4 linked regions of the Homo sapiens genome follow. The protein of the gene in region 2 purifies or fractionates together with the protein of the main gene of each other region. This does not show direct contact. Each region holds a gene or a part of one and is shown on either strand. Other genes may lie near its edges.

What was found. Proteins that work in one complex are often made in the same cells at the same time.
Region 1: the proteins of SLC9B2 (region 2) and MKI67 purify together in Homo sapiens (affinity purification with mass spectrometry; one large-scale study listed by BioGRID and IntAct). This does not show direct contact.
Region 3: the proteins of SLC9B2 (region 2) and UBR3 purify together in Homo sapiens (affinity purification with mass spectrometry; one large-scale study listed by BioGRID and IntAct). This does not show direct contact.
Region 4: the proteins of SLC9B2 (region 2) and FBXO21 purify together in Homo sapiens (affinity purification with mass spectrometry; one large-scale study listed by BioGRID and IntAct). This does not show direct contact.

What each region holds. Positions count from the first base shown.
Region 1 is NC_000010.11:128,105,924-128,109,423, forward strand, and holds part of MKI67 (proliferation marker protein Ki-67), read right to left. Parts: coding exon 1-3,500. UniProt on the Homo sapiens protein: Protein that associates with the surface of mitotic chromosomes and acts both as a chromosome repellent during early mitosis and chromosome attractant during late mitosis.
Region 2 is NC_000004.12:103,070,262-103,073,761, forward strand, and holds part of SLC9B2 (sodium/hydrogen exchanger 9B2), read right to left. Parts: intron 1-3,500. UniProt on the Homo sapiens protein: Electroneutral Na(+) Li(+)/H(+) antiporter that extrudes Na(+) or Li(+) in exchange for external protons across the membrane. Uses the proton gradient/membrane potential to extrude sodium.
Region 3 is NC_000002.12:169,833,954-169,837,453, reverse strand, and holds part of UBR3 (E3 ubiquitin-protein ligase UBR3), read right to left. Parts: intron 1-3,500. UniProt on the Homo sapiens protein: E3 ubiquitin-protein ligase which is a component of the N-end rule pathway. Does not bind to proteins bearing specific N-terminal residues that are destabilizing according to the N-end rule, leading to their ubiquitination and subsequent degradation.
Region 4 is NC_000012.12:117,180,471-117,183,970, reverse strand, and holds part of FBXO21 (F-box only protein 21), read left to right. Parts: intron 1-3,500. UniProt on the Homo sapiens protein: Substrate-recognition component of the SCF (SKP1-CUL1-F-box protein)-type E3 ubiquitin ligase complex.

The DNA.
Region 1 (3,500 bases), on a different chromosome or scaffold from region 2:
GGTCATTGATTCCTCAGTGTGACCTGGTGTCTGGAAGAGCTCTTTGAAGCCAGCCAGATCTTCTAGAGCCTTGGCCTTTTCTTTAGGAGTTTGTGGCCGTCTCTTGCTGCCAGGTAAATTTCCTAGCAGGTCCAGTTTCTCCACTGGAGTCCCCACAAATGTGTTGATGTCTTTCTCTTCACCTACTGCTGCTTTAGGCGTGTGCATGGCTTTGCCTGCTGATGGTGTTAGTTTCCTGAATGCTAAAAATTCTTCCTCTACGTCTGCTTTCTTGAGGCTTCTCTTGGGCCGTTGCTTTGTGTTTGTTGGGGTGTCCGCTGGGTCTGATTGCGGAGATTTGCAGAGTATTTTTTTGGTAGTTTTCTCATCAGTCGTGGGGTTATCAGTGCATGGTGTCTGGAAAAGCTCTCTGAAGCCAGTCAGTTCTTCTAGAGCCTGGGCCTTTTCCTTACGAGTTTGTAGCCGTCTATTGCTGCCAGGTAAATTTCCTGGCTGGTCCAGTTTCTGCACTGGAGTTCCCAAAAACGTGTTGATGTCTTTCTCTTCACCTACTGCTGGTTTGGGTGTGTGCATGGCTTTGCCTGCTGATGGCGTTTGTTTCCTAAATGCTAAAAATTCTTCTTCAGTGTCTGCTTTCCTGAGACTTCTCTTGGGCTGTGGCTTGGAGCTTGTTGGGGTGTCCACTAGGTCTGGCTGTGAAGCTCTGTAGGATACTTTGGTAGTTTTTTCGTTAGTCATTGATTCCTTAGTGTGACTTGGTGTCTGGAAGAGCTCGATGAAGCCGGCCAGGTCTTCAGGGACTTCAGACTTTCCCTTAGGAGTTCTCAGCTGCCTCTTGCTGCCAGTTAGACTTGCTGCTGAGTCTAAGATCTGCTTTGGAGACTCCATAAATGCTTTCATGCTCTTACCATCTCCTGTTGGCTCTGTGTGTGTGTGTGTAGTCTCTCCTGATGTCTGTGTGAGCTTGCCAACTGCTAGGAGCTCTTCTTTCACGCCCACTTTCCCCAGGGATGTCTTGAGCCGTCGCTTGGAGCTTGCTGGGTTTTTGTCTGGGTCTGGTTGTGAAGATTTGCAGGCTACTTTGGCAGTTTTATCGTTAGTCATTGATTCCTCAGTGTGACCTCGTGTCTGGAAGAGCTCTTTAAAGCCAGCCAGGTCTTCTAGAGCCTGGGCCTTTTCCTTAGGAGTTTGTAGCCGTCTCTTGCTGCCAGTTAAGTTCTCTGTCAGGTCCAGTTTCTGCACTGGAGTTCCCATAAATGCGTAGATGTTTTTCTCACCACTTACTGCTGGTTTGGGTGTGTGCATGGCTTTGCCTGCTGATGGTGTTCGTTTCCTGAGTGCGAAGAATTCTTCTTCTACGTCCACTTTCCTGAGACTTCTCTTGGACTGTGGCTTGGAGCTTGTTGGTGTGTCCACTGGGTCTGGTTGTGATCTGCAGGCTATTTTGGTAGTTTTCTCGTGAGTCGTGGGCTTGTCAGTGCATACTGGTGTCTGGAAGAGCTCTTTCAAGCCAGCCAGGTCTTCTAGGGGTTGGGCCTTTTCCTTAGTTTTTGGGTGCCTCTTGCTACCAGTTACACTTGCTGCTGGGTCCAGTTTCTGTTTTGCAGTTTCCCTAAACGCGTTGATGCTTTTATCCTCACCTCCTGGTACTTTATCTGTGTGTGTGGTTTCCCCTGATGTCTGTGTGAGCTTCTTCAGGGCTGAGAGCTCCTTCTGTACGTCCCTTTTCTCCAAAGGTGTCTTGGGCTGCCTTCTTGTGCTTGTTGGGGTGTCTGCTGATTCTGGTGGAGAAGATTCGCAGGGCATTTTAGTAGTTTTGCCAGCAGCCACTGCTTCTTCAGTATGACCAGGGGTCTGGAAGAGCTCTTTAAAGCCAGTCAGGTCTTCCAGAGCCTGGGCCTCTTCCTTAGGAGTTTGTGGCCGTCTCTTGCTGCCGGTTAAGTTCTCTGTCAGGTCCAGTTTCTGCACTGGAGTTCCCACAAATATGATGATGTCTTTCTCTTCACCTACTGATGGTTTAGGCGTGTGCATGGCTTTGCCTGCTGATGGCATTAGATTCCTGCACGCTAAGAGTTCTCCCTCTACATCTGCTTTCCTGATACTTCTCTTGGGTCGTTGCTTTGTGCTTGTTGGGGTGTCCACTGGGTCTGACTGTGGAGAGTCGCAGGGTATTTTAGTGGTTTTACCAGCAGCCACTAATTCCTCGGTGTGACCAGGAGTCTGGAAGAGCTCTTTAAAGCCAGCCAGGTCTTCTAGAGCCTGGGCCTTTTCCTTAGGAGTCTGTAGCTGTCTTTTGCTGCCAGGTAAAGTTCCTGCCAGGTCCAGTTTCTGCACTGGAGTTCCCATAAATGCTTTAATGTCTTTCTCATCACCTCCTGCTGGTTTGGGCGTAAGCATGGCTTTCCCTGCTGATGGTGTTAGTTTCCTGAGTGCTAAGAATTCTTCCTCTACATCTGCTTTCCTGAGACTTCTCTTAGGCCATTGCTTTGTGCTTGTTGGAGTGTCCACTGATTCTGGTGGTGGAGATTTGCAGGCTATTTTGGTAGTTTTCTCATCAGTCATTGATTCCTCAGAGGGACCTGGTGTCTGGAAGAGCTCTTTGAAGCCAGCCAGGTCTTCTAGTGACTGGGCCTCTTCCTTAGGCGTTCTTGGCCACTTCTTCATTCCAGTTACACGGGCTGCTGGGTCCAGGATCTGCTTTGGAGACTCCTTAAACGTTCTGATGCTCTTGCCATCTCCTGCTGGCTCTCTGTGCGTGTGCGTGGTCTCCCCTGACGTCCGTGTGAACTTGCCGACTGCTAGGAGCTCTTCTTTCACACCTACTTTCCCCAGGGATGCCTTCAACTGTTGTTTTGTGTGTGTTGGGGTGTTTATTGGTTCTGGTTGTAATGACTGGCAGGGCATTTTAGTGATTTTGCCTTTCTCACTCTTTGGTGCCTTGGCATGATCTTGGGTTTGGAGGAGATTCTGGCCACGTGCCGTGTCTTTCATGAGTTCTGTATCAGGCAAGCTCTTGAGGTCTGTCAGGTCAGACATTGGTGCACATTTCTGCCCCCAAGTTCTTGATCTCTTCATTGCTTTCATCTTTTCATCGTTTTCTTTTAATTCAATATTTTCCTTATATGTCTCAAAAGGTCTTTCTATTTCCTTCATCTCTCCTTCTCTCCTTTGTTGTAGTAGTGTTGCCTTCTGACCTCTTTTTAGGATGCACTCAACAATTTCTGTATTTGTTTCTTCACTCTTACTTTCCACAGGTAGCTTCTGTATATTCCTGAACTCTGTAGACCTTCCTGACCTGTTTGCAGTGGATACTGTTTTTGAAGGCTCTGTCTCAGTATCTGAAGTTTTTGTCTCCAGAGAAGTCATTTTGTAGGTGTTCCTGGGCGTTTTTGCTACGTTTCCATTTTCTCTAATACACTGCCGTCTTAAGGGAGGGCTTGCAGAGCATTTATCAGATGGCTGTTTTGCTGCATTCTGTGCACTGAAGAACACATTTCCTC
Region 2 (3,500 bases):
TAAAGTGACCATGTTCATGGTATTTATTATTTATAGTCATTGGGTCTTGAAATTACAAAAATGACCTTTGAAGGGCCATAAAAAATGTCATGAAATGCTTATTAGAAAGTTTATTCTCCTTACTCATAGAGAGGCTCTTAAGGACTCATGCAGAGCCCATTAACCCTTATTTTGTTTTGTTTGTTTGTTTGATTTTTGAGACGAAGTCTCCCTCTGTTGCCCAGGCTATAGTGCAGTGGCATGATCCTAGCTCACTGCAACCTCCGCCGCCTGGGTTCAAGAGACTCTCCTGCCTCGGCCTTCTGAGTAGCTGGGATTACAGGTGCCCGCCACCTCGCCTGGCTAATTTTTTGTATTTTTAGTAGAGATGGGTTTTCGCCATGTCAGCGAGGCTGGTCTCCAACTCCTGACCTCAGTGATCCACCCGCCTAGGCCTCCCAAAATGCTGGGATTACAGGCATGAGCCACCATGCCCGGCCCTTATTTCGAAAACAATTCTAATGACTTTGCTCCTTTGTTTTTCAAACCCTCAGAAGATTAGGTGTTAAATATTAAAATTCAGGAAGAGATTGCTGTGATAGAGGCAAATTGAGAGCAGCATTAGTGACTGATGACAGTGAAAGAGATGAAAAAGACAGCAATCTAAGAGTCATTTATAGTGGGGGCGACAGAGCAAGACTGTATAAAAAAAGAAAAAAGAAAAAAGTTTTCTTAACCTTTTCTCCCCACTTGAAAGAATTGTCCTTAAGAGATCAAGAATATAAGCAGTTTGATATATGTACCTGTTAAGAAGGAAACAGAAAAAAAAAATCCTTTAACAGCAGTTGCCTTTGGGAAGGGAAATGGAAGAGGAGTGGCTGGACTTTCTTTCTTATTTTCTAAGAAAGATTTTCTTATGTAGGATTTTCTTATGTAATTTGATATATATATATATTTTGTTGTTGTTGTTGTTGTTTTTTTGAGATGGATTCTCGCTCTGTCACCCAGGCTGGAGTGCAGTGGCATGATCTTGGCTCACTGCAACCTCCGCCTCCTCGGTTCAAGTGATTCTCCTACCTTGGCCTCCCAAGTAGCTAGGACTAGAGGCATGCACCACCACGCCTGGCTAATTTTTGTATTTTTTTTTTTTTTTTTTTTAGAAGGAGTCTCACTCTGTCACCAGGCTGAAGAGGGATTGCAATGGCACGATCTCAGCTCACTGCAACCTCCACCTCCCAGGTTCAAGTGATTCTCCTGCCTCAGCCTCCTGAGGGACTACAGGCACATGCCACCATCCCTTGCTAATTTTTGTATTTTTAGTAGAGACGGGGTTTCACCATGTTGGCCAGGATGGTCTCGATCTCTTGACCTCATGATCCACCTGCCTCAGCCTCCCAAAGTGCTGGGATTACAGGTGTGAGCTACCACACCCGGCTAATTTTTGTATTTTTAATAGGGATGGGTTTCACTATGTTGGCCAGAATGGTCTCAAACTCCTGACCTCAAGTGATCCACTGGCCTTGGCCTCCTAAAGTGCTGGGATTAGAGATGTGAGCCACCCTGCCTGGCCCTAATTTTAAATACATTTAAAAATAATCTACTCAATTCCTAAAGCTTTAGAGAAAAGAAAATGGTACCACATTTCTTGGTAATATTTCTCATAGATACAGTCTGGTGATTTGATTTGAGGTAACTTAATAACACCTGCCACAATTTAAAATCATTTTTTGTAGTTGTGATTTTTCAAAGAAGATGAGTAACTGCCCAGAATCACCAATAGCAGTGGTTTTCAAAATTTTCAAGTTTGGCTTTCATGTTTTTTTTTTTTTTTTTTTTGAGGTGGAGTTTCGCTCTTTTGCCCAGGCTGGAGTGCAGTGGCGAGATCTCAGCTCACTGCAACCTCTGCCTTCCGGTTTCAAGCTATTCTCCTGCCTCAGCCTCCCGAGTAGCTGGGATTAAAGGTGCCGGCCACCATGCCCAGCTACTTTTTCTATTTTTAGTAGAGATGGGGTTTCACCATGTTGGCCAGGCTGGTCTCAAACTCCTGACCTCATGATCTGCCCGCCTTGGCCTCCCAAAGTGCTGGGATTACAGGCGTGAGCCACCGCACCCAGCCCTGGTCTTCATATCTTTATGTCAAATATCTTTCATCAAATGAAACCTAATCCTTAAATCCTACAAATGGAACGACTAAGGTGGCGCTGCAGGAGCCCTGTCTACTCACCCCTGTTCCTTCTGGCAAGTGGAGCATACTTTGGAAACCATTTCTGTAAATATGTTTTCACATAGAGAGATATTTGTTAAATGTTCTCTTTTTCATATTATCTTACTAATGTAAATGTTTACAAGTACTTTCTGTAATATTCCAGAAGAAATAAAGGAACTATCAACTTACAAATGTCCGTAGGCTCTCGGTCAAGTAAAATAGACTTACTGCTATCATTTCAGTTACTGCTAAAAGATATGGATAAAGACTTTTTATTCTTGCTATTTGCTGCCTGTGATTTGGATAGGCTGACATTTAAAGGAGTAATCTTATGGAGAATTTACATATATTGCTTGCTATGGCTTGAATGTTTGTGTCCCTCCAAAATTCAGATTTTGGAATGTAACTGCCAAGGTGATGGTATTAAGAGGGAGGTACTTTGGGGAAGTGATTAAGTCACCAGCACTCAACCCTCATGAATGGGACTAGTGCTCTTATAAAAGAGGTCAAAGGGAGCAGCCTAGTCCCTTTGGCTCTTTCCCTTCCACCATCTGAGAACACAGCATTAGTCTCTTCCTCCATGTGAAGAAGACATGGCAAGAAGGCACCATCTTGCAAGCAGAGATCAAGTGTGTAACAGACATCAAATCTAATTAGCACCTTGACCTAGGACTTCCCAGCCTCCAGAACTGTGAGAAATAAATTTGATTATTTATAAATTAATTAGTTTGTGGTATTTTGTTACAGTAACAAAAATGGACTAAGACATTGCTAGAGTACTCTGGGTTGTATTCATGCCTTTGAAAGAGCATCACTATGATTGTTCAATACTCTATAATGATAATAATAACAACAATCTCCTGCCTTTGTGTTCATCCATTCATGTGTTGAACGTATAGGTTCTCAGTCTCATACAGTATTTCTACATAGAACATACAGAAACATTCCAGTTTCTGTATTTGCTTATCAACACTGATCTAATGGTCATTTCCCAAAAGGAGCCCTACCCAGCAATGAGGAATTCAGATCAGGCTCAGAGTAGGGCTTAACACTTTCTTAGACAATTAATTACTAAAATGACTAACAGTGTTTCCCTGAATGAGAACTACCTTATCTGAAAGACTTAGGTGTGTCAAATACATGTGGCCAAGTTACCAAAGGAAAACAACCGCTATTTTATTTGGTTAATTGATTTAGTAATTTCATTGACTCATGAAGGAAAACACTATATAATGAGATAAGAATAAAAGGAAATTACCCCTACATAAGGGACCCAATACTTGCTTTCATCCTTTCTATTCTCTCTCCTCACCAA
Region 3 (3,500 bases), on a different chromosome or scaffold from region 2:
CCCAGGCTGGAGTGCAATGGCGTGATCGCGGCTCACCGCAACCTCTGCCTCCCAGGTTCAAGCAATTCTCTTGCCTCAGCCTCCCGAGAAGCTGGGATTACAGCCACACGCCACCACACCCGGCTAATTTTGTATTTTTAGTAGAGATGGGGTTTCTCCATGTTGGTCAGGCTGGTCTCGAACTCCCGACCTCAGGTGATTCACCTGCCTCGGCTTCCCAAAGTGCTGGGATTACAGGCGTGAGCCTCCGGGCCCGTTCAGGCAGTTCTTTATAGCAGTGCGAAAACAGACTAATACAGACCTCAATCTCATACTACATGTAAAAATAAATTCCAGATGGACAAAAGACCTAAGTGTACAATGAAAAACCTTAAATCTTTCAGTAGAAAACATATAAGCATTTTTTTAAACCAAGGTGAAGAAGATTTCTTTAACAAGATACAAATAATACAAACTGTAGAAGAAAAACTACATTTTTAATTTAAAATCGTTTACAACAAAATTATATATTTCAAGGTAAAAAGACAAGACACAAACTAGAAGATGAAATTAAGTATTTATACAACAAAGGATCAGCATCTAGAGTATGTACAGCATTCTTAAAACTCAGTAAAACAGAAAAACAAAACAGGCAAATAATATGAACCAGCAGTTCACCAAGAAAGAAGCCCAAATGGCCCCAAAACATATGAAAAGATGTTCAACTTTACTAGTCAAGAAAATATAAATTTTAAAAAGATGTTTGTATCCAACAGATTGGTAAAATATTATAAATTTATATATATAACACCAAGTGTCTTTTGGTTTTTTTTTTTTTAAGTTCTGAATTACATGTGCAGGATGTACAGGTTACATAGGTAAATGGTTGCTGTGGTGGTTTGCTGCACCTATCAACTCATCAACTAGGTATGAAGCCCAGCATGCATTAGCTATTTTTTCTGATGCTCTCCCTCTCCCTGCCCCCGACCCAACAGGCCCCTGTGTGTGTTGTTCCCTTCGTGGTGTCCATGTGTTCTCATTAACACCAAGTTTCAATAAGCAGAAAAACAAGACCTCAAATTCCTGGTGGGGCCAGGCGTGGTAGCCCATGCCTGTAATTCCAGCACTCTGGGAGGCTGAGGCGGGAAGATCACCGGAGGTCAGGAGTTCGAGACCAGCCTGGCCAATATGGTGAAACCCCCATCTCTACTAAAAATATGAAAATTAGCTAGGCATGGTGGCGGCCGCCTGTAATCCCAGCTACTCAGGCGGCTGAGGCAGGAGAATTGCTTGAACTCAGGAGGCGGAGGTTGCAGTGAGCCGAGATCGCACCATTGCACTCCAGCCTGAGTCTGATGGGGACAGAGCGAGTTTCCATCTCAAAAAAAAAAAAAAAAAAAAAAAAAATATATATATATATATATATATATAGAGAGAGAGAGAGAGAGAGAGAGAGAGAGAGAGAGAGAGAGAGAGAGAGACAGTGCACACAGGAATTTCAGGAAAATGGTTAACGTCTGGAGAGGAAAAGAGAAAGGGAAAGGTGGGTTGACCTTTCTTTGGTTTTTTGACTAAAAGCAACTCTAGAGCAAACATGGCAAAAGGTTAATATCTATTCATCTCAATGGTAAGTACAAAGGTATCTGTTATACTACTTTTGTACTTTTCTGTAAATTCAAATTGTTTCATAATTGAAAATAGTTTTAACTGAGTTTTATAATGATTTAAAAATTAGGCCACGCACGGTGGCTCACGCCTGTAATCCCAGCACTTTGGGAGGCCAAGGCAGGTGGATTGCCTGAGGTCAGGAGTTCCAGACCAGCCTGACCAATATGGTGAAACCCCACCTCTACTAAAAATACAAAAATTAGCTGGGCATGGTGGCATGCACCTGTAGTCCCTGCTACTAGGGAGGCTGAGACAGGAGAACCGCTTGAACTCAGGAGGCAGAGGTTGCAGTGAGCCGAGATCATGCAACTGCACTCCAGCCTGGCAACAGAGTGAGACTCCATATCAAAACAAACAAACAAACAAAATATGAATATTTTAGGTGTAGTATTGGTATTGTGGTTTTGGGGGAGTTGTTTGTTTTTTGCTTTCTTTTCAAGAGATGAGGTCACTTCATGTTGCTGAGGCTGGAGTGCAGTGACTATTCCCAGGTGTGATCATAATCCACTGCAGCCTCTTACTCCCAGCCTCAAGCAATACTCCCAACTCAGCCTCGGGAGTAGCTGGGACTACAGGTGCGAGCCACCATACCTGACATTATTTTTTAATTGTGGTAAAATATAAATAACATAAAATTTACCATTTAAAACATCTTAAGTGTACAGTTTTAGTGGCATTAAGTACATTCACATTGTTTTGCAACCATCACAACCATCGATCTCAAGGACTTTTTCATCTTCCCAAACTGAAACTCTGTACCTGTTAAAAAAATAACTCCCCAATCTCCCCTTCCCTTGGCCTCTGATAATCACTATTCTACTTTCTGTCTGTATGAATTTGACTATTCCGGGCACTTCATATAGACCGAAGCATACAAGCATTTGTTCTTTTGTGCTGGGCCTATTTCATTTGGCATAAGGTCTTCAAGGTTTATCTACATTGTAACATTCTAATGTGTCAGAATTTTATTACTTTTTAAGGTTAAATATTCCATTGTACGTATATTCCACATATTGCTTACCCATTCATCTGCTGATGGACATTTGAGTTATGTTTTAGAGTTCACATCTCTTTACTGAGATGCATACTCAAATATTTTTAAATTAAATTATAAGGTATCTGATATTTGCTTCAAAATAGTCCTGGCTGGGACGAAAAAGCAGTGGGACAGGGAGATAACAGATGAAATGGGATATAACTTTTCACTTATGAGAGCAGCAAAGATCAGAAACACTGATACCACCATATATACTGCCAGAATATGGGGAAACAAATTGTTTCATACATTGTTGGCAGGAATGTAAATTAATTTCTTTGGAGGGTTCTATCAAAGTTGAATTTGCAAATTTCCTTCAACCAAGATATAACTTCTAGGAATGTATCCTCATACATAAGCTCACACACATATGAACAAGTGTATACAAGAATACTGACTGCAACAATGTTTACAACAGCCCAAGTCTGGAAACAATTTAAATGTCTATCAGTAGGGACTGACCGCAAAAATCATAGTACATTACAAAAACATGGAAATACAATGAAATACTATTTAACTTTAAAAATGAAGCAGTTCTACTTTTGAGATAGTATCCATAAATATGTTAAGGGGAAAAAAGCAAGCTACTGAAGAGAGTAACACTATTCAACCAGACATTCACGTGGTTCAATTTCTGGCTACCACAGATCAGAAAACCTAAAAACCTCCCACAACACAGGCCAGGCACCACACTGTGGCTCACGCCTATAATCCCAGCTCTTTGGGAGGCTGAGGCAGGTAGACTGCTTGAAGCCAGGAGTTCAAGACCAGCCTGGCCAACATGGTGAAATACCATCTCTACAAAAAATACAAAAAG
Region 4 (3,500 bases), on a different chromosome or scaffold from region 2:
AAAAGATAATTTAATATATTTAAACTCAGAGGGAAAAAATGGATTTTTAAAGAAATGGTACTGGACATAACTGAATATCCAGCTGGAAGAAAGGAAAACGTGCATCATATGCAAACATTTTTCCAAAGGATGAAACAACTGAAATTTTTAAATGATCACAGTGAACATTCCTCAAGAAAATAGGAGACTTTGTATAGTCTAAGGGAGACCACCTTAACCAAGAAGGACAATGCGGAGACAGTGAAAGAGCAGACACTTCTATATGGCCAAGAGAGCATGAACGAAGTCAGTAGAACTCAAGAGATATTGAAAAATGTTCAAAGGTTAGGAGGATGACATTCACAGAAGAACAAATCCTAACATCTAACAATCACGGAAAACTTTTAATACACTATTCAAAAAGTGTTAAATAGGCCGGGTGCAGTGGCTCACGCCTGTAATCCCAGCACTTTGGGAGGCCAAGTCCTTGGATCATCTGAGGTCAGGAGTTCGACACCAGCCTGGCCAACATGATGAAACCCTGTCTCTACAAAAAATACAAAAATTAGCCAGACATGGTGGCAGGTGCCTGTAATCCCAGCTACTGGGGAGGCTGAGGCAGGATAATTGCTTGAACCTGGGAGGCGTGGGAGGCAGAGGTTGCAGTGAGCCGAGATCGCGCCATTGCATTCCAGCCTGGGTGACAAGAGTGAAACTCCGTCTCAAAAAAAAAAAAGTGTTAAACAGCAATGAGATACTGCCATTTTACATATCAGGTTCCCAAAAAAGATGAAAATGCATAGCTAGTAAAGACATATATTATAGTGTTTTTAGAAATAAATACGAATAGGTTACCCAACACACATATTTTGACCTTAAAAAAGGATTGTTTGTTTTAGAAACAGAGTCTCACTCTTGTCACCCAGGGTGGAATGCTGTGACGCAATCATAGCTCACTGCAGACTCAAACCCCTGGGCTCAAGTGACCCTCCTGCCTCAGCCTCCCGAGTAGTTAGGACTACAGGCACTTGCCACCACACCTGGCTAATTTTTTCTATTTTTTGTATAGATGGAGTCTTGCTTTGTTGCCCAGGCAGTTACTAAACTCCTGGCCTCAAGAGATCTTCCCAGCCAGGCATGGTGGCTCACGCCTGTAATCACAGCATTTTGAGAGGCCGAGGCGGGTTGATCACTTGAGGTCAGGAGTTCAAGACCAGCCTGTCCAACATGGTAAAACCCTGCCTCTACTAAAAATACAAAAATTAGCTGGGCATGGTGGCACACGCCTGTAATCCCGGCTACTCGGGAGGCTGAGACAGGAGAATTGCTTGAACCTGGGAGGCTGAGGTTGCAGTAAGCTGAGATTGCACCACTGCACTCCAGCCTGGGCGACAGACTCGGTCCAAAAAAAAAAAAAAAAAAAAAAAGATCCTCTTGCTGTGGCCTCCCAATGTGCTGGGATTACAGGTGTGAGCCACCACGCCCAGCCCTGTTTGTTTTTTTGAGACAGGGTTTCATCCTGTTGCCCAGGCTGGAGTACAGTGGTGCAATCATGGCTCACTGTAACCTTGAATCCTGTGTTCAGGGGATCCTCTGGCCTCAGCCTCCTGAGTAGCTAGGAATACAGGCATGTACCATCATGCCTGGCTAATTTTTATTTGGTAGAGACAGTGTCTCACTATGTTTCCCAGGCTGGTCTTGAACTCTTGACTTCAAGTGATCCTCCCACCTTGGCCTTCCAAAGTACTAGGACTATAAGTGTGAGCCAACAAACAAATAAGGTTGTTTTTAAATGATAGAATACCCCGCATTTAAAAATATTTTGGGATACCAGTTTTCATGGAAGACCCTGTTTGTTTTCATTCCTGGCAAATGCTTATGGTTTGGATATGGAAAGCATGGGAAGGAAAAAGTGTAGTTTCCATAAATGCCAAAGTATCAGCTTGAAATCAGTTTGTGTTTATGATGTGCTATGTGGTCTTAAAAACGAGTATGTCCTACAATAAAGATTAGAAACAGCATATTAAAAGGGCATACACTGGGCCAGGCACAGTGGCTCACACCTGTAATCCCATGACTTTGGGAGGCTGAGGTGGGCAGATCACCTGAGGTCAGGAGTTCGAGACCAGCCTGGCCAACATGGAGAAACGCCGTCTCTACTGAAAATACAAAAAATTAGCCGGGCATGGTGGCAGGCACCTGTAATCCCAGCTACTCAAGAGGCTGAAACAAGAGAATCGCTTGAACCTGGGAAGTGGAGGTTGCAGTGAGCTGACATTATGCCGCTGCACTCCAGCCTGGGTGGCAAAGTGAGACTCTGTCTCAGATAGATAGATAGCTAGATTAGATAGATAGATAGATAGATAGATAGATAGATAGATAGATAGATAGACTGTCTCAGATAGATAGATCGATCGATCGATAGACTGTCTCAGATAGATAGATAGATATAAATAGATAGATAGATAAATTCATACATTGTACCTGAGAAAAGTGTCACAGAATGACCAATACTGAGACATACTTTAGTAAAATTGCTGGATTTTAAAGACAGGAAAGTCCTTTGAGCATCCAAGCAAAAAAGGTAAAGTCATTTATAAGGAAAAGAAAATAAGAATATCATCAGACTTTTCAACAGAATTTTTTGTGCCAAAGGAAAAAATAGCTTAAGATACTCAATGATCTAAGGAAATGTCAACCAAGGATTTTTATATCCAGCCAAACTGACTTCCAGATACAAAGACTGCACAGAAACTTAACAACTTAACAAGAATTCAGTGACTTTTCAGTCCTTCCTGAGAGATCTCCTGGAAAATGAATTTCAAATGACCAAAAACCACTCCCCGCCCCAAAAAAAACAAAACAGAGAAACACTGATATAAGGACTGGCAGTGAGCACTAAACATGTATTTATTTTTAGATTTAAATTCAAATGAGGGCTCTAGGGGAGAAAATATTTCATGTGTAACGTCTGTAAGACATGTCAGTATAAATACAATGCATCTGTTTTAAAAAATGAATGGACAGTGGGGGAGAACATATGCAAAATATTTAGCTGTTTTCAGTAATCATAAAAGTGATGAGTAATCCCAGCACTTTGGGAGGCTGAGGTAGGCGGATCACAAGGTCAGGAGACTGAGACCATCCTGGCCAACATGGTGAAACCTCGTCTCTACTAAAAATACATAAAAAAAAAAAAATTAGCTTGGTGTGGTGATGCAGCCTGTAATCCCAGCTATTTGGGAGGCTGAGGCAGGAGACTAGGTTGAACCCGGGAGGCGGAGATTGCAGTGAGCTGAGATCGCACCACTGCACTCCAGCCTGGCGACAGAGCGAGACTCCGTCTCAAAAGAAAAAAAAAAGTGATGAAAACATTAGTCTTGTTATTCTGAGGGCTGGTGTGTGTGTATGAGAGAGAGATGTGGAATGAAGTAAATGAATAACGATGTGATATTCTAATTTTACCACCTGTGATATCCTGGAGAAGCAGAATTCTCCTGGAATAAAGAAGACATAGATAT